Regions from separate parts of the Homo sapiens genome. Here all the other regions are linked to region 1. The links come from fine-mapping of genetic effects on gene expression. A gene starts in region 1. Each other region holds a variant in brackets. All regions are shown on one strand. Distances are from middle to middle.

Region 1 (5,144 bases):
CAAGAAAGGCAAAACGTAATAGCAAGCAGTCACCATCTCTAATAAACAACCTGCCTCCCTCTAACCACGGTGCCTTCCAGCAAGGCAGGGTGCACACATTTCCTTGAGTGGAGCTAAGGTAGTAACCAAGTGGCCGAGTGGGTGACCCAGGAACCCCGGAGGCAAAAACTACAGACTCCCCTGCCCCTCAGCACAGCACTGTGATGATGGTACCAGCAGGCCCTTTACACACACTCTTTCCCAAATTACCTGTGACTCCAGGTAATTCTGACCTGACAAGCACTCAGGCCAAGGTCTCCAGGAAAGAGAGAAGCAAAGAGAACACTCACCTGGCAGTGTTACTGCCCCGAGGCTCCAGCTGGAGCTTCCACCCAGATTCCCAACTCCACGCCCAGGAGATGCGGAGTCTGAGGCCTGAGTTAGTCCCAGGTTGCCTGATTTTGAAAGCTTTCTAGGTTTAAAGAGCCAGGTGCTGATTCACAGACCCCATATCTGCCTGTGCCTGGACAAGGAGAGTCTCCTCATTTATAGGACAGGATGGGAGCCAGTGCCACCTCCCTCCCAGGATCTTTCCCAGGAGCTGAAGCACAGCCCTGAGCCCGTCAGGTGTGGAGGAGGGTCCTCTGGTGGTGGCCGCCCTCCAGATATCTTGCTGGGAAACCTCAGAGGCCTACTCAACTGAGGCCAAGCCCACCCAGCTGTTCCCACAACAGGAGCCGGACTGCCAGGACCCACCTGGTCATGACATACGGGGCAAAGCAGATGAGGAAGGTCGCAATAGCAATGCCAATCTTCCTGGTGGCGCGGTGGCGGCGCCGCTTCTGCTGGATGAGGCAGCGCTGCCGCACACTGTGGGGACAGAGGACAGTGGTCAGGATGATGGCAGGGTGGGGACAGAACCCAGGCCCAGAGCCCAGGGGCTGAAGTGAGGGCAGACAGGAGGGTTTCAGGAGGATGTTTAGCCTGGAACCTGAGGAGGACAGAGGGATGGGGGAGAGAGAAAGAACAAGGGGTAGGCTTGCTTTTTTGTAGGTGAAATAAAGGAAGTCTGGAAAGAAGGGCCAGCTCCTCCTCCCTTCCCTCTGGCTCATCCTTCTCCACACAGAGGCAACTGAGGCAGGCTGCTGATGGAGGGGCAAGGCTGGGGCCCTCAAGGAGGGAGAAGTCACGTGGCCTGCCCACCCCAGGAGCAGGAGAGCCTCTTGGGTGTTCTGTGGGGGGCCAAGGGGGAAAGGGGAACACCTACAGGAGGTAATTTGGAACAATGGCGACACCAGCTAGAGATTCAGGAGACAAATCCTGCCAAGTAGTGAGCAGAAAGCATGGGGGATGGACCCTGCTCAAGACTTGAAGCCCAAGTCCATGCAAGGGCACTGGGTCAGCAGTGGGCAGAAACAAGCAGATGCCTCAGACCCACAGCCATGCACAGGAGGGGTGTGTCTGGCCGCCCACAGCAGAGCCCGCGGAACCCCTCCCGGAGAAGCACACCCCACAGCTCTGCGCAAAGCTCCCTGTGCACTGAGCACATATCCCAGGAGGCAGAGGCCCCCGCAGTGTCTGCACCAATGAACCAACAGGAAACCCCTGTGAGCAGCGTGCAGGGGCAGTGCTGTGGCTGGTGAACTCTGGGCGGAGTAACGGTGGTGATGCCCACAGGCTCCTCAAGCCAACTGCCCAGGGAGCGCCCAAGTCCCTGGCCTGGGCCTGTCGGCATGCACTGGGCCAATACCTGGGGTGCAGGTCGGCGAGCAGCGCGAGCGCCTTCATGGTGACGGTGTCCATGCGCTGGCAGTGTCTGCGTGCCACCCGGTGCACCTGGAGCGAGGTGAGGCAGAGCACCGCCAGCGGCAGCACGAAGCCCACGGCATGGAGCGTGGCGGTGAAGGCTGCGAAGCGCGGACGCTCAGGCTCGGGCGGCAGGCGCAGCGAACAGGACGCGAAGGCGCTGCTGTAGCCAAGCCACGAGCAGCCAAGTGCAGCGCCTGAGAAGGCCAGCGACTGTCCCCAGGCACAGCCCAGCAGCAGGCCGGCATAGCGCGGTCGCAGGCGTCCGGCGTAGCGCAGTGGGAAGCCCACTGCCAGCCACTGGTCTGCGCTCAGCGCCGCCACGCTCAGCGCCGCGTTGGACGCCAGGAAGGTGTCCAGGAAGCCAATGACTTGGCATGCGCCGGGCGCCGACGGTGTCCGCCCGCGCATCACACCGAGCAGCGTGAAGGGCATGTCCAGCGCCGCCAGCAGCAGGTGGCCCAGAGACAGATTCACCAGGAGGACGCCTGAGGCTCGAGTGCGGAGCTCAGCGCTGTAGGCGCAACAAAGCAGCACCAGTGCGTTGGATAGCAGCGCCACGGCCAGTACCATCACCAGGAGACCCGCCAGCAGCGCCTCGCCGGGGCCCATGGCGCTAGCGGCTCGCCAGGCACCCTGGGGTTCTCATGGCTCTGCTTCGGGCGCGAGCCTGGGAAAGTGAGGCGATGGAGCAGCTGAGCGGCGCGCCCACGGCTTCTGGGAGGTGCAGAGCCGGCTAGCAAGGTCCAGAGCAGCGCGAGGAAAGCGGCGGCAAGTGCAGGGTCCGGGGCACCCGGGGGGAGGGCGTAGCTCTGCGGAGCAGGAGCAGCCCGGGGCCGCCCTGGAGGCAGCGCAACCGCGGTGCTGTCCAGGGTGCTGAATGCGCTCACCGTCCCGGCAGGACTGTCCTGAGGCTGAAGCGAGGCGCAGGGGCGCGGGGCGTAGGGGCGAGGGAGGTCTCTTTCCTAACACTGTATCTTTCCTTCTTCTCTCCTCGTGGCGTGGCAGGATGGGACTCTGCGCGCTTCTGTTCCGGGCCAGGTCAGTCCCTGCCCTGGTCACACCTCCAGCCGAGCCTCCCAGCCCTGGTTCGCGCGCAGCTGACACGCCAGCAAGAGCCACTCAGTGGATCCTAGGCAGCACAGCCCTCGCCACGCCTCTCCCTCCAGGCGCTGGCACCAAACTGGAGCGACCTGGTGGCTTATAGGGGCGGTAGGGGCGGGAATGAATTGGCAAGAAGCTGTGCAGGCGGGGCAGAGGGAGTGACGGGGCGGGGAAGGGGGCGGGGGCTGCCCTCAGGACTTCCTCCCATCCCCCAGCCTCAGCCCAGGAACTGTGACTGCATCGACGTTTGTTGAAGCAAGAAGAGCGACAAGAAGTGGAAACAAGGTTGAGAAAGGCATGGGGGAAGGAAAGAGAAGAAGAAGAAAAAGTGAAGAAAAAGTGAAGAGGAAGTGGGGGGAAGAAGAGGGAAGAGGAGAGAAAAGCAACAGAGGGAGAGACAAAGAAGGGGGCACCTTGGGAGGACCCACCCAGAACTGGGTGCCATACAGAAATGCCTGTCCTTCACCTGGCTCCTGGAGCCCCGCGGTGCGAGGCCTCTCCCACCTCCGCCATCCTCTGTGGTGGCTTCTGAGCCTTCTCACCCAGTGGGAATCTTCTAATCCATTCGTGGCCACTTGGCAGGACAAGGATATGGTGAAGCCTCCTGGAAGCTGCTTCTTCCAGGAAGCTTTTTGGCATTTTCTCCCCAGTGACAGCCACAACATGACAGAAATGAAGGGCAGACGATTGCCCACCCCTCCCCACACCCACCCTCACCTGCAGGCTCTGCCAGCCCTTTCTGAGGGACAAAGGGTGGCTGGTGGTGTGGAGGCTCACCCTGTGGGCCTCTCTCGTGCCGGTGCTGCAAAGTGGCCAAGGGAAAAGCCACAGGTGCACAACTGGCATGCTGGGGCACCCCTGGTTCTGTGCCTTGGGCCTCACATTCTCATCTGTCACATGGGGATATTCATAGCCCCACTTAAACCCCTTGGGCCTCACATTCTCATCTGTCACATGGGGATATTAATAGCCAGCAATAGCATCTGCCTCTGGTGGTTGCTGTTAGGGTTAAATTGGCCAACATGCACAAAATGCTGAGGACATCCCAGCAGGCAGTGAAGGATCAGAACACAGTCAACCTTTATTAGGGGGTCCGTCTTATACCTGGGCAAAGGAAGTTTCATTCAAGTGTCTCTGCCAAGTCCCCATAACTACAAACCAGGAATGCCGAGATTCATACCTCAGTCCTTCTGGCTCTAAGTCCAATGTCCTTGTCATCCAGAGAGGCCATCACACCAGCTCCAAGCCATTGCCATCCATCAAATACAGAGGCTTTCTCTCTCCCCATTTCTCCCTGGCACTCCCACAAACCTGCTTTCAAATTTTCACCAAATTAGACCTTCCCTGAAGCTAGAGCAGCCACGTCAAAGTTTTCCTGACATGTCCAGGAAGAGTGGGCCACTCTGCAGCTTCTGCAGATCAAGCAAGTTTGCAGGTGAATAGCTGGGACAAAGTGATTGTGATAGTGGGGGCTTGAGAGCAGGGGCCTCCCCCAACCCCTCCAAGGCTTCTGAGCGACCATGTGCAGCTCTGGGGAGCGGTGGAGTCATCACGTGGCTTCACAGGGAGACTTTGGTCTAGCCACTCACAGCAGCCTCTGTCACCTCTCAACTACTCCAAAGGGAGACAATTCCACTTGCAGGGGAGCAGAGAGCATCTCTTCTGAGACATGAGCATGGGGAAGCTCCACCAGCCTGTATTATGAAAGGCAGGCCATTTGCTCATCTGCAAGGATGTACTGGACAACTGCATGAATGAGAAAATGTGTGTGGTGAGATCTCTGGACTCTGGTGAGGGCACCTTGATAGGTCTAGATCTGTTCTGTTTGCTGCTCTCCCCAAAGCCCCAGTGCTTCTGGCCTCAGATCTTGCCAGCCTGGCTGCCCCCCTTCCCTGGGTTGTAGGGGGTGGTTTTGAACCCTGTGGTCTTATCAGTATAATATCGTTTCATCTTCTTACACTCAAATCTCATTCCTGATGAAAAATTTAAATCCTCTGTAGGGTGAAATGCTGGACCTAATCCTTTTATCTTCCAAAAAGAAAAAGTATATGAAAATATTAAATATTTTCACCACTTCTTTAAAAAGTAAGGCAGTACTCCTAACTATGCAATCCTGCCCATTCTTGCTGAGATACGCATTGCAATGATAAAGTTCAGGATTAGTTCCCGAAGGCTCCTCCCCTGCCTAGTGATAGTTCATGGTTCCCCATTGCCTATGAAATTCCTTAGCAGCCCCTCCAAGTCTACCTACATCT
Region 2 (5,144 bases), 23 kb before region 1:
GGTACTGGGCTAGGTAGATGAGCATCTCCCGGCCCGCCACCTCGTTGCCATGAATGTTGCCGATGAGCTTCACCTCGGGCTCCACTGGGGGCAAATACAGAGACTTGGGGCATCATCTCAAAGCCGGGGGTCCCCAAAGGCATGAGGCCCCCCCACTCAGCAAGAATGACCAGATGGGCTGGGACCAATTCATACTTGTTTTGACTCAAGAACCTCTGTATATAATGAGGTCTCATCAAGGTCATCACTTTTGTTAAGCTCGTTTTTTATGCCTAGCCAGAATTCTTAGTTAGCATAACTCAAGAATATGAATAATATATGTTATCATTGATTCATGCAAATTTAACTGATGGTCTCTCTTCATGTTTGTGTAATAAGTCAAAGTGCACATTGGTACTTAGCTGGGAAGGTGGTTGGCCCTTGAGTGGATGAATGGATATATCAATGATGGATGGATGGATGGATGGATGGATGAATAATGGCTGGCTGGATGGCTGGATGGATAGATATATCAATGATGGATGAATGGATAGATGGATAAATCAATGATGGATGGATGAGTGAATAATGGCTGGATGAAATAATGGATAAATTGATGCATGAATGGATGGACGGATGATGGATGGGTGTGTAAATAAATGGATGGATGATGAGTGGATGGATGCATGGATGTATGAATGAATGGGTGGATGATGGATGGATGTGTAATGGCTGAATGAATAAATGGATGGATGGATGGATGGATGGATGAATAAATGAATGGACTATAGGAAGAAGAGTGGACCAGGCCCCATGGCCTTACTGGCTGTGTGACTGCAGGCAAGTCACTCCTCCTCTCTAAGCCTCGCACTTGCTCCCCTGGAAAATGATGTCTCCCTCCCCAGCTGTGTGTGGCCCAGGGACAGCCAGGGATGAGAGGAAACACCCGTGTTCCTCAGATGCCACATCCCGGGGTATAAATGACCTGGGAGCTTTCTGCGCTGGTTACCTCCCTTGGCCTTCTGCACAGGGGCACCTCTTGCCCTCAAATTCCAGTGCTGTAGGGAGAGCCTCTGCCTCCTGCCCAGAGCATGTTACAGTTGGAGAGGGAACATAGTGAGCCTTGGGGGCCAGGGTGTGGCCAGGTGGCCTCTGGCCCCTGGTAAGAGATAGAGCCTTTGGGCTCATGGTGTTCATGCTGCCCAGACCAGTAGGATGAAGACTGGCTGAGGCTGCCAGCACTGAAAAGGCCCTGAGTCCATAAACAAAGAGCAGGTGCATTTTTCAGTAACTGGTGATGACCAAGGGTCAAATGGAGGCTGCTTCTAAAATAACCGATTCTGTTTGAGTGGGGAGGCCGAGCTGGGCGGATCACTTGAGGTCAGGAGTTCGAGACTAGCCTGGCCAACATGGTGAAACCCCTGTCTCTACTAAAAATACAAAAATTGGCCTGGTGTGGTGGCCCATGCCTGGAGTCCCGGCTACTCGGGAGGCTGAGGCAGGAGAATTGCTTGAACCCAGGAGGCAGAGGTTGCAGTGAGCCGAGATCGTGCCACTGCACTCCAGCCTGGGCAACAAGAGCAAAACTCTGTCTCAAAAAAATAAAATAAAATTTCTTGTTTGTTTTATATCTTTTCAGCCACTAGATCAATGTCTCCATTATTATGAAATAACCTAGTCTGCCACCCTACATTTTGAAGTAAGATGGATATCTGGAGAAATTCTTCTTTATACATATAGTGGTTGCACATGCCCAGCGGGACGTGGCCTGCACCAAGCAGCTCCCTGAGGCCCCCAGCTCTGCCCAGGACCCCAAACACCCCACCAACTTGTGCACCCGAAGGTGGAGCGGCCCAAGCCCTTTCCCGAAACGGGGCCAGGCCAGGCTCTCCCAAGGGCACTCACTCAGCTCGTGCTGGCCGGGGCGGCTGGAGAACTCGATGACCAGCAGCTCCCTGCCGTCGAAGCTGCGCCCGATGCTGTAGGTCCTGGCCACGTGGGCGCAGCGGGAGGCCGTCCGCCTCAGCACACGCACCATCTGGGCGTAGGAGTGGTGGCTGAAGCGGATGAAGGTGGGCGGCAGCCCTGAGGGCAGTGCCTCGTCAGCCTCCAGGCCTCCTGGGGGAGCAGTGGGGGGGCTCAGTCAGTGTCAGGCCCCCAGGCTTCCTACCACTGCCTGGGAACGCTGACCACACACAGCACCCTTAGTCCCCTCTGCACGACAGCCATGCTTGGACATCTCTATCTTTAATTAGAGTTCCCTCTGCAGTGCCTACAACGATATCTAAGCCAAACGGCACCTGAGGTATGTACACAGCACAGCGCCATGGTTCCTAA[C/G]GTGACTGTGAGTAAACATACTATGGGGCCACTGTGGGAAGCTCCTAAAATACGGAGCAGGACAACAGAAAGGAAGACAGATATATGGGGTCCTGGACCCCCCAAGGCAAACCCCTGCTGGGTGTGCAGAGGGGATTTTCCTGGGCGTGTTTTCCATGACAGTGGCACTCAGGCAGTTCAGTATTCTGCTTCATTTGCTTGGCTAATGGTGGAAACAGGAAGGCTCCTTGTGGTGCCCCCTCCGGCTGCTGTGAGGCTTCCCAGTGTTTCTGTTACAACCTCATCGGTACAACAGTGAGTGCCTGTCCAGGAAGGAAACAGAAAGGGGGGCTCTGGGAAGTACTTGGGGGAGGAAGAAAAAAGGGGGCTGGGGAAGAGGGAGGGGTTCTGGAACTAGAATACGAACGTCTCTACACCACATACGCACCAGCTTCCCCACCATCCTGTCATCCACTAGAACAGAGGTGCCCTGAGGGCCACCCCGATGACGCTTAGCTCCCTCCACCCCGCCAGGGGCTTTGCAGCAGTCAGGCCCACAGGAGCAGGACGCAGGTGCCCGCAGGCTGTTCCTGGGTCCACAGAGAGTTAATGTGCTCCTCTAAGCTTCTCCTTGCCCTGTGGTTTTGCTTCTGCTCAAAACGGTTCTCCAGGGGAAAGACTAGCAGAGGAAGCCGGCAATTTGGTGGTAGAGATGCCCAAAATAATCTCCAACCGACTCCTTGGGCTTTCCCAGGGCTGTGGGCTTGGCTTCCTTCCTCGCCTCCCTGGCCTCCCACAGGCAGCTCCACCACCTCTACAGGGACTGAGCTCTGCAGACAGACGGCTCCCACCTGCTGGCAAAGGGCACCCCCCCTACCGCTGCATCGCATGGGAGCCCAGGGTCCACCCTTCTCAGATTGGGAGCCAGAGGCTGCAAGACATGCCAGGTTCAGCCCTGAGCACCTGACATAGCCCGGAACCCAGGGCTTGCTGGAGCCCGGCCCGGGTGTTTGTCTGCCTTCCTTCTCCTGCCCTCCTCAATGTCCCAGCACAAAGCCACATGTACAGTGGGTGCTCGGTAGCTGTTTGACAAATGGCCAAATCCATCCCTCCATCCGCAATGGGCTTGGGCCACTCCAGCTAAAGACCCCACTGCTGTCACCCTTCCCGAGGCTCCACTTCCTCTTCCATGGAGCAAGGCTGTCGTGAGACTCGCGTGAGCTAGCACATGTGTGGCACCCGCAGTCAGATCCTCTGAACCCAACCATGAGCGGACACTGCCCTGCACAGTTGAATGTGGCACACACTGGCCCTAGGCTCTTCAAAGACAGGTTCAGACTCATTCAAATGCGATGAAACGCCCACATCCAGGCCTCAGTGGCAAGAGCCACATCCCAAGCCTTGGGGGCCACATGCGGCCAGTGGTAACTGTCTTGGACAGAACACAATAGAACATTTCTTTTACACAGAAAGGTCTAACGGGCCAGGACTGCTGCGGATCATGCAGGGTCTCTGGTGGACACCGACTCGTGAGACAACAGACACAGGGGACTCCATGCAGGGCCCCCAACCAGCCCCGCTGCCAAGTGGCCCTCTGGCACCTCTTTGCACACCTCAGAGACAAGTGGCCCATGGTGGCCCAGTCTTGCCCACTCCCCCTCCACTGTTTCATCTGCAAGAGACATCAAAGCATTTCTCCACAGCTCCTCTCCCTCCTTGAGCCCACAGGGCGGTGCAGACCCTGCTTGGAGGAGTCACTCCAAGCCAAACCCTCTGTGTGATCTTCCAGGCCCAGCGATGAGCAATCGTGAAGCTTTGCCCGCCAGACCTCCCGGGGGATGTAAATGCCCCGCCCCCCCTTGACCAGGGGTAAGCACTATGGTTCTGGAGGGTCTGTGGCTGAGGACTGGACCCCCAGGGCCAGCCCTGCACTCTGAGCCCAGGCTCCCCCACACGAGGCCTGCTCACTGCACCCTGGGCGGGGGCACTGCCCCCACTTGGACTCAGCACCCTTCCACCCCAGCCTGCCTCTAAGGGGCTGGAGACTTCTGCTAGGGGGCCCTGGGCAGCGAGAGGATCCTCCATCTGCACTGAGCCCCCGACCCTGCCTGGCACCCTTTTGTGGGGAACATGCTGCCTCGGGGAGCAGCCCCGCCCTCTACCAATGCCTGCACCGTCACTGTCGATGGAAAAGCCCTCAAGTTCCTTCCAGTGTGGCTCTTGGTCCTCCTTGACCACCTGGACCCCATGACCACACAGGCCCCCGCCACTTTCCCTTACCCCGAAGCTTCTCCAGCGGGTCATAGCAGCCCTCGTCCTCTCTCGTGAAGTAGCGGTGGCAGTCAAGGAAGTAGGGCCAGGCCATGTCAATGGCGTCGAAGGCGGGCTGGCAGACCTCCCGCAGGCCCTCGCAGATGTGCCGGCAGGGTCTGCGCACCCAGCCGCCCTCACACCGGGGGGCCAGCACAGCACAGCCCAGCAGCCGCAGGTCCGGGTTGCACTGGCCTTCCAGGAGCTGGTGTAGAACGCTCAGCAGGATGTACTCGGAGCTGGCCTCCACCACCTCCCACGACCGGTGCTGAAGCAGGTTGGGGAAGGTGGTGTGGTTGTAGGCGGCATCGCTGCAGGTCCTGAGCTGCAGGTCCACGCAGGTGGCTGGGGAGGCAGGGTCGGCAGGTCAGTCCCTCCTGCAGTGGCCCTGACCGTCACGCATCAGACATTTACGTAGGGGACCCCACGCAGGGCCAGGGCCTGCAGGGAGGGGCACCCACGGTCTGGCAGGGGAGGACCAGGACAACAGCTACTGTGCAGGAATCAGAGCCTGTGAGAGACCAGAGGAGGAGCCTAAG
Region 3 (5,144 bases), 74 kb after region 1:
CAGCGACGTGGCGCAGGACTCCAGCGCCGCCCCTCCTGGGTGTGGTGTGGGGCCTGGGCAAGGACCTGGGTCTTTCCAAGCCTCAGTTTCCTCATCTGCGAAATGGGGACAAACACACCACTGCCAAGAAAACTGTTGGTCCTGACCAGGCCCCTTCAGGGCCACTGCCCCTCCCCGGCAGCTGGGAGTGCCCCCTGCAAGGGAAAGTTGCCCATGGTCAGTGCTGCCCTGGCTCGGAGTTGGGGCAGGGAGCAACTTCTTAGGAAGCACCTCCAATCGCATGAACAAGAATCCCCATCTCAGCTCTGCTTCTAGGGAACCCGGCCCAAGGCTGCCCACTTCACACAGGGCTGCCCGCAAGCTCCTGCCTGGGCACCTTACACAGCCACTCACTCGCCACTGCCACTCCGGGGCAGCTGGCATCTTACACATGAGGCCGGAGAGGCTCAGAGGGATCAGTGCCACTTTCTGCAGTGGACTCCCTCCCTCCCTCCCACCCCACTCCCTTTTCCCTCCCTCCCTCCGTCCTCAGGGCTGCAAAGGATCTCTTTGGTTCCTTCAAAGCCTCAGCGTTGCACTTGCAATGAATGTCCTGATGTTTTTTGGTTACCAGAGAAGAGTTGCAACTACAAAATCTCCGACGCATCTGTGTTCTCTTTTCCAGTGTCCATAGTAACTCCCAGTGTTACTCTGTCATCTGCTCAAGAGAGGGGTGATGGCTGGGCCCTCTCTGAGTCCTGCCAGCTGCCAGCCCTCCAGGGCAACGGCCGGGATGGTGCATGAGGCTGGGCTGGTCAGTGGCACTGCTGAGAAGAGGAAGGGGCCCCAAAGTAGGCGGCGGGAGGAGGAGGAGGAAGGCAGCCAAGGACACAGAAGAGACATTTGCTCGGACAGCGACGTTCTCCCTCTTCACAGGTGAGCATCTGTAAAGGAAGGGAAGGGTCTCACCCCAAACCCAACAGACCAAAGCCTTGGGATGTATCAGCAAACACGGGGTTGTGTTTGTGTGTCTGTGGGCTCATGGGAGGTGCAGAAGCCAGCACCTCACACTCATGGGGGATCTGCCGCCCAAGGCGCCGCAACCCCATGGCCACAGTCGGTCAGCCAGACCCCGGCCATGAAGGCTGAGGATGGGGTCCCTTCCATCCAGTCCCACGGACACTTCCGAATGTCTGCACCACTCAGAGGTGACTCTGAGCAGACATCAGGTTCAACTCCGCAGCCCAGCAGAGGGGACGAGGTGGCCAGGCCTGGCTGGGGGTCACTTGGGGAGGGGGCTTGGAGACTCCCATGGGCTCCCCAGGCCCAACCAATAACCCACACAACAGACACAACCCATGGCACCCAGACCCACCCTCAGGGCCCGGCAGGCCAACCTCCAGCCGCAGCCCCTGCTAATAACAAGGTCACGTCCTGAAAGTCCCTCCTCACCCTCCCACAGCCATACGAAATTGCCCAGGGGCTGCCTCAGGACCCCACACAGAAACCTGAGCTGTAAAACTTGCCAGATGTGAGGCCAGGTATAGTGTCTCATGCCTGTAATCCCAGCACTCTGGGAGGCCGAGGCAGGCAGATCACCTGAGGTCAGGAGTTCGAGACCAGTCTGGCCAACATGGTGAAACCCCATCTCTACTACAAATACAAAAATTAGCTGGGCATGGTGGTGGGCACCTGTAATCTCAGCTACTCGGGAGGCTGAGGCAGGAGAATCACTTGAACCTGGGAGCTGGAGGTTGCAGTGAGCCAAGATTGCACCGTCACGCTCCAGCCTGGGCAACAAAAGCGAAACTCCATTTCAAAACAAAACAAAACAAAACAAATCAAAGCAAAAACTGCCAGATGTGAGGCCACACCTAAGCTTCCCAGGGGGCCTGGGCTTTCTGGGCTCAAGGCTCTGCCTGCTGCCGGATCTGTCACTGGGGGACGGGGCAGGGGTGAAGGAGCGGGGGCCGGAACACGCTGTGTCTCCTCAAGTTTTTCCTGGACTCCTGTCTGTACATGGAGCGACAGCCCTGCCTCCAGGTGACCAGGGGCAGGACCCAGGATCCCAGCAAGCATGCTTGTTTGAACACTTTTTGGATGCAAGTAACAGAAATGAATTCTGGCTTCAGCCAGGAAAGAAGAAAACAGAAAGAAGGAGAAAGAGGAGAAAGGAAAGGAGGGGAAAGGGGAAAGAAAGGGGAGGGAGATGGCAGGATGGTCCCAGAACCCACAGGCAAGGATGCACGCTGAGCTCCGGAACGCCCAGAGCAGGCGCTGGGGGAGGATGGGAGTGCTTCCCGCACGCAGCCTTCCCTCCCGGGGTTTTCAGCCACATCCCTCTGGGTACAGTGTTACTCAGCAGAATAATTCACTGCCAGGCGATTCTGGGCTTCTAAACTATCAGCCAGCCCCTCAAATAGACTTGTCCTTCTTCGTTCACTTCCCCAATGTGGACACGCCCTGGCCTCGCCTGGTCGGGGGCCCCCATGGTGTGAGCACGTCCTCTGCTGTGCCCACATAGGCCAGGGCTGAGGTGGAGGGAAAGAGCCCCCTGTGCCTGCTCGGAGCCGGCCACACTTCTGCAGGGAACACAGCTCCATCCAGCTGTGGGGGCTGAGCTGGGAAGCCCTGAAAGGTGCCTGCTGGCCTCCAGGCCCAGGCCAGGTGGGAACCTGCTGTGGTCGCAGGCCTCCTTGTCCCTTCAGGCAGCAGCTGACTCCCTGTCCACAGCCAGCTGCGTTCCAGTGGGGAAGCTCCATCCCAGGCCTGTCTGATGACAATTCCACAATTCCACCCACGCTGCCTCCAGGAAGCTCTGCTGATGAGGTTCCCGTGGCCCTGCCTGTTGCAGGCGGCTGACCGAGGGCCAGCAGCCCAGCCAGCCCA[G/C]CTCACCAAGCAGCATTTCTCACTTGGAGCACGGCAGAGCTGGAGTTGTTTTTATATTTGTGCCAAGAAATGGCTCCAAGCACTGCAGACGTGGGCTCTGGCGGAGCCTCCAACAGGGCAGGCCACGCGGGGCCAGCAGCCTCCTTCCGCCCAGGGGCTGGCCCAGGAGGTGAGAATTCCACAGAGAAGTGCACACGTAGCACTTGGCCCGCTCCCCCTGGGGCAGAGCCATCACCTCCCAGCCCGAGAGGACCCCAGGCTGAGGGGGGAAGGGGCTGCCCAGGTCACACAGGGACCCTGGAATGCGGCAGAGCCCAGCACCAAAGGTTAAGTGAGGCCAAATCAGCAATGAGCATGGAGTGGTGCCCGGGCTGGAAGGACAGTCACTACCTCCCACCCCAGCAGGCGGCTGAGGGCTTCTTTGTTTTTGGTGGAGTCAGGATCTGGCTAAACAGACTGTTAAAGAAATGCGGAATTCCAGTCCATGCCGTTTTCTGGGTAACAGAGGGTTTAGGAGAAATCCCTTCTGCTCCACTTCTGTTGAAAATATTTCTGCACTCCAAGCGCCCTCAGCAGTGTCAGCAGGGCACAGCCCCTCAGCAGCTTGTGACACCCACGTGCCCTGGTCTCAAGGAGGTCCCCAGACATTGCACTGAGCACCAGGTCTCCTTGTGAATGTCCCCATGAGAGCAGGGAGTGCCCCTTCTCTAGCTGGTGTCCCATGTCCTCATCAGGAGCACATACTCAGGGCCACACAGCCCTCGTCCCCAACTATGGTGCTGTGATTTGCTGTGTGTATTCGTCCATTTTCACACTGCTGTGAAGAAATACCCAAGGCTGGATAATTTATAAAGCAAAGATGTTTACTTGACTCACAGTTCCACATGGTTGGGGAGTCCTCAGGAAACTTACAATCATGGTGGAAGGGGAAGCAGGCACATCTCACATGGTGGCAGGAGACAGAAGTGCAAGAAGGAGGAAGAGCCCCTTACAAAACCATCAAACCTCATGAGAACTCCCTCACTATCACCAGAACAGCATGGGGGAAACCGCCCCTGTGATCCAATCACCTCCCACCAGGTTCTTCCCTCAACACCTGCAGATTACAATTCAAGATGACATTTGGGTGGGGACACAGAGCCCAACCATATCAGTGGCCTTGAGCAAGTGTCTCAGCCTCTCTGTCTCTGCTTCCTCATCTGAATGAGAGGGTGACAGTGAGGACTCCCATCTCTTAGGGTTGCATGGGCATGAAACAGTGCAGCTAGTGCAGCGGAGGGCAGGCACATTTGCTGCTCCCCTTCCCCCACAGGGCGTGACTCATGCCCCCCACACCGGCTGCCTGTCCAGGGCCACGGAGGAACCCTGGGGATCTCCATCCACCCTACCACGTCTTGCAGACTAGGATGCCCGGGCTGCAGAGGTGCTGGGAGGTCAAGGTGGCAGAGCTGGGGCTGAGTGCTGGCCTCCCAGGGCAGGAGGCTCCTCCTGCACCCTTGAGCCTGGAGCACCCTCCCTGCATCTGGCCTCAGTGCACCTGACTTCCCACAGGCAGAGATGCCACCTCCTCAGGGGCTGCAGCCTCCTGTTCGCAGATGGAAGATGCAGCTCTGAGGGGTGAGGAGTCACAGCCGGAGCAGCACCCGGACAGAAGCCTGCTCCAGCCAGTTTCTGCCACCTCTGTCCTATCTCTCCTTTGAAAGGTGAGGGACAGGGACCTAGAGAGGCTGCCAGGGCCCTCAGTGTAGCACCGCCTCTTCCTGAGAGGTCACGCAGCCAGGAGAAAGGACAGATCAGCTGTTGTTGGTGGAGGGAGTGGGACATGGAGGGGGCATTCCTCTGCGGCTGGGGGCAGCATGCAGGGGAGGGTGGGTAGAGCAGAAGGTGAGTAATGACCAGAATCAGCAGGACCCAGACCAGGAGGCTGGGGGAAGTGGTAGATACAGCAACAGGTACCCTGCGGGGGCCTATTTAGAATCCAGAGAAGTGGCGTTCAGCCCCAGGGAGCTCAGGGACTGGGGTGGTGAGGCAGACGGGGCTGGCACTGGCAGGGCAGGGCTGCCACCATGGAGTGCAGTTTGCAGGTGCAGCCAGGGTGCCTGGGTTGTGACAGGGGCAAGAGCAAGGGTTTGGAGCAGACCCTTGAGACCCCAGGAAGAGCTCTGCCAAGCTTCAGTGCCCTCTTCCCCACAGGGAGGATGAAGGGAACTTCCTCCCGGGTGGAAGAGATGAGCTATTGAAGGTGGATACAGACTTGGCGCAGGTCCACACCCAAG
Region 4 (5,144 bases), 24 kb after region 1:
CAGGAAGTGAGCAGGTGCAAGGGAAATTTGCTGCCCCAAAACATGCAGGATGGTGACTGCCTCGCCCACAGCCCTGCTGCGGGAAGCTACAGCCTGGGAGAGACAGATTGCGGGTCTCTAATTTGGGTGATCCTGTGGTCGGTCGGCACCCCTTCCTGCTGAGGCTGAACCAGCATTTCCAGGGGCCCTGCCATCCACGCCACCAGAGATCTCCCTAAACTACATCAGTTTCTCTTTCCTCTCTTCCCACCCAAACTCACCTGTCCAGGATCTCGTCCCTGAGGCCTGGCTCTCTGCCGGTCAATGAGGGGCACAATGTACACCTTCACGGAGAGCTTCAAGGCCTGATCCATGGCATGAGGTGTGCAGCGTGCTCCCGACTTGGAGCCAGAAGACCCAGCTTTGGGCAGGCTCTGCAACCTGGGTGAGCCCTCACCCTCACTGAGCCTCAGTGTCCCTGTCTGCAAAATGGGGGAAGCAGCACATTCCCTCGGCACAGCCCGACTCTGGAACAACAAACGTATGCCAAGATGCCAAAGATTCTCACCCTCCCCTGCGGCTCGGTGCTGGCCAGGGAAATGGGGGCCGAGCTGTGGCCAGTGAGGGCTGGGCCTGGCTCCACACTCAGGATGATTGAATTCTGCATGGTGGCTCTGGCCGGGCTTCCCGGACAAGCCTGGGTGAGTCAGGAACAAGGCAGGCCTGGGTGGGGCTGGGGGAGGGCAAGAGTGTACAGCATGCCACCATGGCCATTCTAACAACACCTCCCCAGCATGGCACCCCGCCTCTCCACTGCCCCCAGATCCCAACTCCCACCCTGGAAACGTGGAACAATGGGAAACTTCACCCCCTTCCTTGGGGCACAACTGAGGCTAAGGTAGAGAAGGCGACCCGTGACTTCCTGGAAGGCCGGGAAGCAGAGAGCCCAGCTGACCCTCACTGCCCTTCCACGAGTCCCAGCACTGTCCCTGGCCCATTCTTCATCACTGCCGCCTCTCAGTGGGAAAGCCAGCCAAATTCTGTGCCAAGCCAGGAAGCCAGTCCTGGGGACAGGGTGGGCGAGCTAACAGGTAGGTGGCACCAAACATGCCCTGCCTAATCAGTGCCCCCCCACCGCCCCCCAAGCACACCTGAACCAGCTCCCAGGGTCCTCAGGCAGGTGCTGGGTCACAGCAATGATCAAGGAGGGGTGGCCTCTGGGGTGGACAGACAGACAGACCCGGGCACAGGGAGGTGAGGGATCAGGAGGGGCAGATGGGAGGCCCCCAGCCCAACCTTGAGCACTGGGGTGAGCTCTCAATGGTTGGGGCCTGTGCCGAGAGCTGTGGGCCAGGGTGGGAGCTGGGAGCAGGCTGGAGGAGTGACCGTGGCAGAGGGAGCGGCAGGGGTGCCAAACACTGCTGTGGTGGGCTGGGGGCAGCTCGAAGCCTCTTGTTGGAGCTGGATTCCCAAAGCAGCGGGTCAGCGGGGGCAGATGCTTTAAAGGGTCCTGTGCTGAGCGGAGGGTGTGTGGGAGGGGCACAGGTGTCCCAGAGCTGGGGAAGGGCTGCCCCACTTGTCCCGAGGAGAGGACGCCAAGGGCCCGAGCCCGGATGTGGCAGGGAAGGAGGCTCACAGCACCCACTTCACAGATGAGAAAACTGAGGCTGCCAATGGCCCCCGCCCATTTTGGCTGCCTTGTGATCATGTTGGCTCTGGGGTAAGTAACCTCTCTTTCCACATGCCATGAAGGGTTGGCACTCTGAGTACCTTCTTCTTTTCACTAAAAATTCCCTCCCAGAACCCACTTTCCGCTTGTTCACAGGACCCGCTGGCGGGGCCTCCCACCACAGTGAGGAGCCACGAGGGTCCCCTAGTTGGATGCTCAGGTCACACTGCCCTCGGACTTTCTGCACAAAATGCTCAGGCCCCTCCTCACCTCCAGGCCTCGGGACCAGTCACACAAGAAGTACTCTCCGGGTTTGTTTGTTTGTTTTTATAAGAGGAAAAAAATGCCCAACAGAAAACTGACAAAGTAAATGAACAGGAAATTCACCAAAAACAAAAAAACGTAAATACTGTATACAGATGGACCATAGCAAAACTGTGTGAAAGGTGGTCCCGGACAGGCGGGGTGGCTCACGTCTATAATCCCAGCACTTTGGGAGGCCAAGGCGGGTGGATCACATGAGGTCAGGAGTTTGAGACCAGCCTGACTACCATGGTGAAACCCCTTCTCTACTAAAAATACAGAATTAGCCGGGCATGGTGGCGCATGCCTGTAATACCAGCTCCTCGGGAGGCTGAGGCAGGAGAATAGCTTGAACCCAGGAGGCAGAGGTTGCAGTGAGATGAGATTGCGCCACTGCATTCCAGCCTGGTGACAAAAGTAAAACTATCTCAAAAAAAAAAAAAAAAGTGGTCTCAATGTCCTAGTCCTTAAAGATAGGGAAAGAAGAGACAGAGCTCTTCACCATGAGGTTGGTAAAATTGCCTCCCGATGGTGATGGGGAAAATGGACACAGGTTTTTCGCTTGCCCTGCTGGCAGGGAGGGGCAGTCTGGGCATTGATACTAAAAACAGGCTTATCCTTATGCACAATTTTAAATCCATTCCGCAATCATTTACTGAGTGCCTGTAAAGTCTGACAGCTGTTTGTCCAGGAATTTAACACCGAGGAGCCTAGCATAGGAGTCCAATGCTTTGGATGCATAGAGGACGGC[G/A]GTGTTTATATAACACACACCTGGAGAGTGGATTCCCTGCCAAGGAAACACCAGGAGCTGTGAGATCCGCGAGCCAGTTCCACATTCATGGGCACAGGAATCTGCCTAGGCTTATGGAGTTGATTTAAAAAATAACACAGGAGATCATACATGGCACATCATATGATCTCACTATGTGTCCACATCTGAGTGTGCACGGGAGGGCTTGGGGTGTGGAGGGGTGTGTGTGTGGAAGGGGGTAACCTTCATGTGCCCAGAGAAGACCTTGAAATCATGTTCATCAAAAGACCAGCGTCCATCTCTCTGGTCACGGGCCTCCATCGATCTCTTTTTCCTCTAATTTTCTGTATATTTCTTTTTACTTCTTTGATATCCCTTCTTTATGATATCCCTAATGCCTTGCTTCCTAATGACATCCCTATGCCATGTTTTAAAATAAAAATGCTATTTTCAAAACAATTTTCTGTATAGTTACCCCCAGAGAACTCGTGGAAAAATACACATCAGCCCTCTTAGGTATTTTCAGTCTTGAAGAACAGCTTGAAATGGTTTCCTCTGCAGGCTGGTGACAGGGCTGGAGTGCCCATGGCAGGCCCCGCCAGCCTCCCCTTGCCAAGAGACACTGGATACGAGGGAGGCAGTCACAGGTGGCCACTCCCAGCAGCTTCCGTCCTGGGTGCAGGCCTGCCCCGGGGGAACCCAGGGCCTCCAAGCACCAGAGCAATCCTTAGGAATTACAGGTGGCCCTTGAATAATGTGGGGTTAGGGGCACCAAACTCCTGGGCAGCCAAAAATCTGTGTATGACTTTTGACTCCCCCAAAACTTTGTGTGTGTCTGTGGTTTTTTTTTTGTTGTTGTTGTTGTTTGTTTTTGTTTTTGTTTTGAGACAGAGTCTTACTTTGTTGCCCAGGTTGGAGTGCAGTGGCCCAATCTCGGCTCACTGCAACCTCAGCCTCCCAGGTTCAAGTGATTCTCCTCCCTCAGCCTCCCAAGTAGCTGGGAGTACTGGTGTGCACCACCACGCCCAGCTAATTTTTGTATTTTTAGTAGAGACGGGGTTTTGCCATGTTAGTCAGGCTGGTCTTGAACTCCTGACCTTAGGTGATCTGTCTGCCTTTGCCTCCCAAAGTGCTGGGATTACAGGTGTGAGCCACCATGCTCGACTGACACCCCCAAAACTTAACTAAGAGCCTACTGCAGGCCAGAAGCCTTACCAATAACATCAACAGTCCCTGAACACAAATATTTACTGTATTCTAACAATGAAGGAAGAATCTGACCATCTAGCTTTAGCGAAAACATTAAGAAAATCATAAGGAAGAAGAGATGTATTCACTGTGGAATCGGGCCATCATGAAGGTCTTCGTCCTCATTATCGTCACCATGAGCAGGCTGAGGAGGAAGAGGAAGAGGGCTGATCTTGCCGGCTCAGGGGTGGCAGAAGTGGGTGAAAATCCATGTATAAGTGGACCCACGCTGTTCAAATCCATGTTGTTCAAGGGTCAACTGTAGTTAAAAATCCATTCATTCAACACACACCGTGGAGGCAGAGCCTGTGCTGGAGTGAGGCTGGCCCAGGAATCGGCAGCACCCTGGGGGTCGCTGGGGTCGGGGAAGGCTCCTCCAAGCCTGGTCGAACACAGCCTCGCAGGATGCGTGGGGCTTTATGGATGCGCACAAGGAGCAGGGGAAGGCCTCGCACAAAAGCAGATAGCACCAGAGAGCAAGGGATGCCGGGGCACCACGGAGGACGTGGAAGGCCAGAGGAGGGAGTCACAGGTACCCCTTTTACTTAGGTGTTAGTTTCCTATGCAGTGTAAGGAATGATCAACCTCACCCACCCCACATCCACATATTCATTTCTGCAGGGCAAAATCCGGGCAGGGCTCAGCTAGGTCCTCTGCTCAGCATCTCACGAGGCTGCAGTGATGGTGTCCGCTGGGTTGTGATCTTATCTGAAACGCAGGGGCCTCCTCCAAGCTCTCAGGTTTGGTGGAATTTGGTTTCCCAGGGTTGTTGGCAGGGCTTGTTCTCGGCAGCTAGAATTCCTGCCCAGGTCCCTGCCAGGTGGAGCCCCATTTTCAGAGCAGCAAGAACGGTCTCTCCTGTAAAATCCCTCCCTCCTGGAGGAGCCCCGTCGGTTTGAAGGCTCCGATGACTAGCCAGGCCCACCCAGGATAATCCCCCGTTCTTAAGGTCCACAGTACCAGGAGATAACCTAATCACAGCTGCCAAATCCCAGCAGATTCACAGCAGGCCCACATCCCCCAAGGGGATTATATTGGGCGGTACACTAGGGGCGTGATCTTGGGGCCATCTCGGAATTCCTCCCGCCACAGTCATGGCTCACTCTTGCAGCCCTCGCTCCCTGCCAGGTGGCGTCCTGCGCATTGCCCTCCTAATGGTACTTTGAGCACTTGCCCAGGCTTTTAGTCCTCTGG

Which allele goes with the higher level. Positions count from the first base shown, and alleles are read on the strand shown. Sizes are in standard deviations (SD) of each study's normalised expression. Not every link is listed here.
With allele A in place of G in region 4, the expression in esophagus mucosa of the gene that starts at base 2,988 in region 1 is lower (small effect, 0.27 SD a copy in GTEx).

The links. PIP is the estimated chance that this variant, and not a neighbour inherited with it, causes the effect.
Region 2: its variant is the best candidate, but not a certain one, in a credible set for the expression of GPR78 in nasal epithelium (TOPMed, PIP 0.67).
Region 3: its variant is the best candidate, but not a certain one, in a credible set for the expression of GPR78 in lung (TOPMed, PIP 0.66).
Region 4: its variant is the best candidate, but not a certain one, in a credible set for the expression of GPR78 in esophagus mucosa (GTEx, PIP 0.68).

Annotation. Positions count from the first base shown.
Region 1 is chr4:8,578,236-8,583,379 of GRCh38, reverse strand. It overlaps GPR78 (G protein-coupled receptor 78), which reads right to left and starts at 2,988. Exons shown (of 3, transcript NM_080819.5): 1 at 1,730-2,988; 2 at 736-849. The coding sequence starts at 2,397. RefSeq lists an enhancer at 2,167-2,828.
Region 2 is chr4:8,600,929-8,606,072 of GRCh38, reverse strand. It overlaps CPZ (carboxypeptidase Z), which reads right to left. Exons shown (of 11, transcript NM_001014447.3): 3 at 4,576-4,950; 4 at 1,885-2,097; 5 at 1-84. LOC124900659 (a long non-coding RNA gene) reads left to right here. Exons shown (of 3, transcript XR_007058014.1): 3 at 1-346. Among named protein-coding and RNA genes, the nearest start is that of CPZ, 11 kb to the right of the region's middle. The variant C/G (reference allele first, on the strand shown) is at 2,317.
Region 3 is chr4:8,504,577-8,509,720 of GRCh38, reverse strand. It overlaps a transcript of TRMT44 not described here. Among named protein-coding and RNA genes, the nearest start is that of TRMT44, 66 kb to the right of the region's middle. RefSeq lists an enhancer at 4,652-5,144. The variant G/C (reference allele first, on the strand shown) is at 2,869.
Region 4 is chr4:8,554,098-8,559,241 of GRCh38, reverse strand. No RefSeq gene overlaps it. Among named protein-coding and RNA genes, the nearest start is that of GPR78, 24 kb to the left of the region's middle. The variant G/A (reference allele first, on the strand shown) is at 2,703.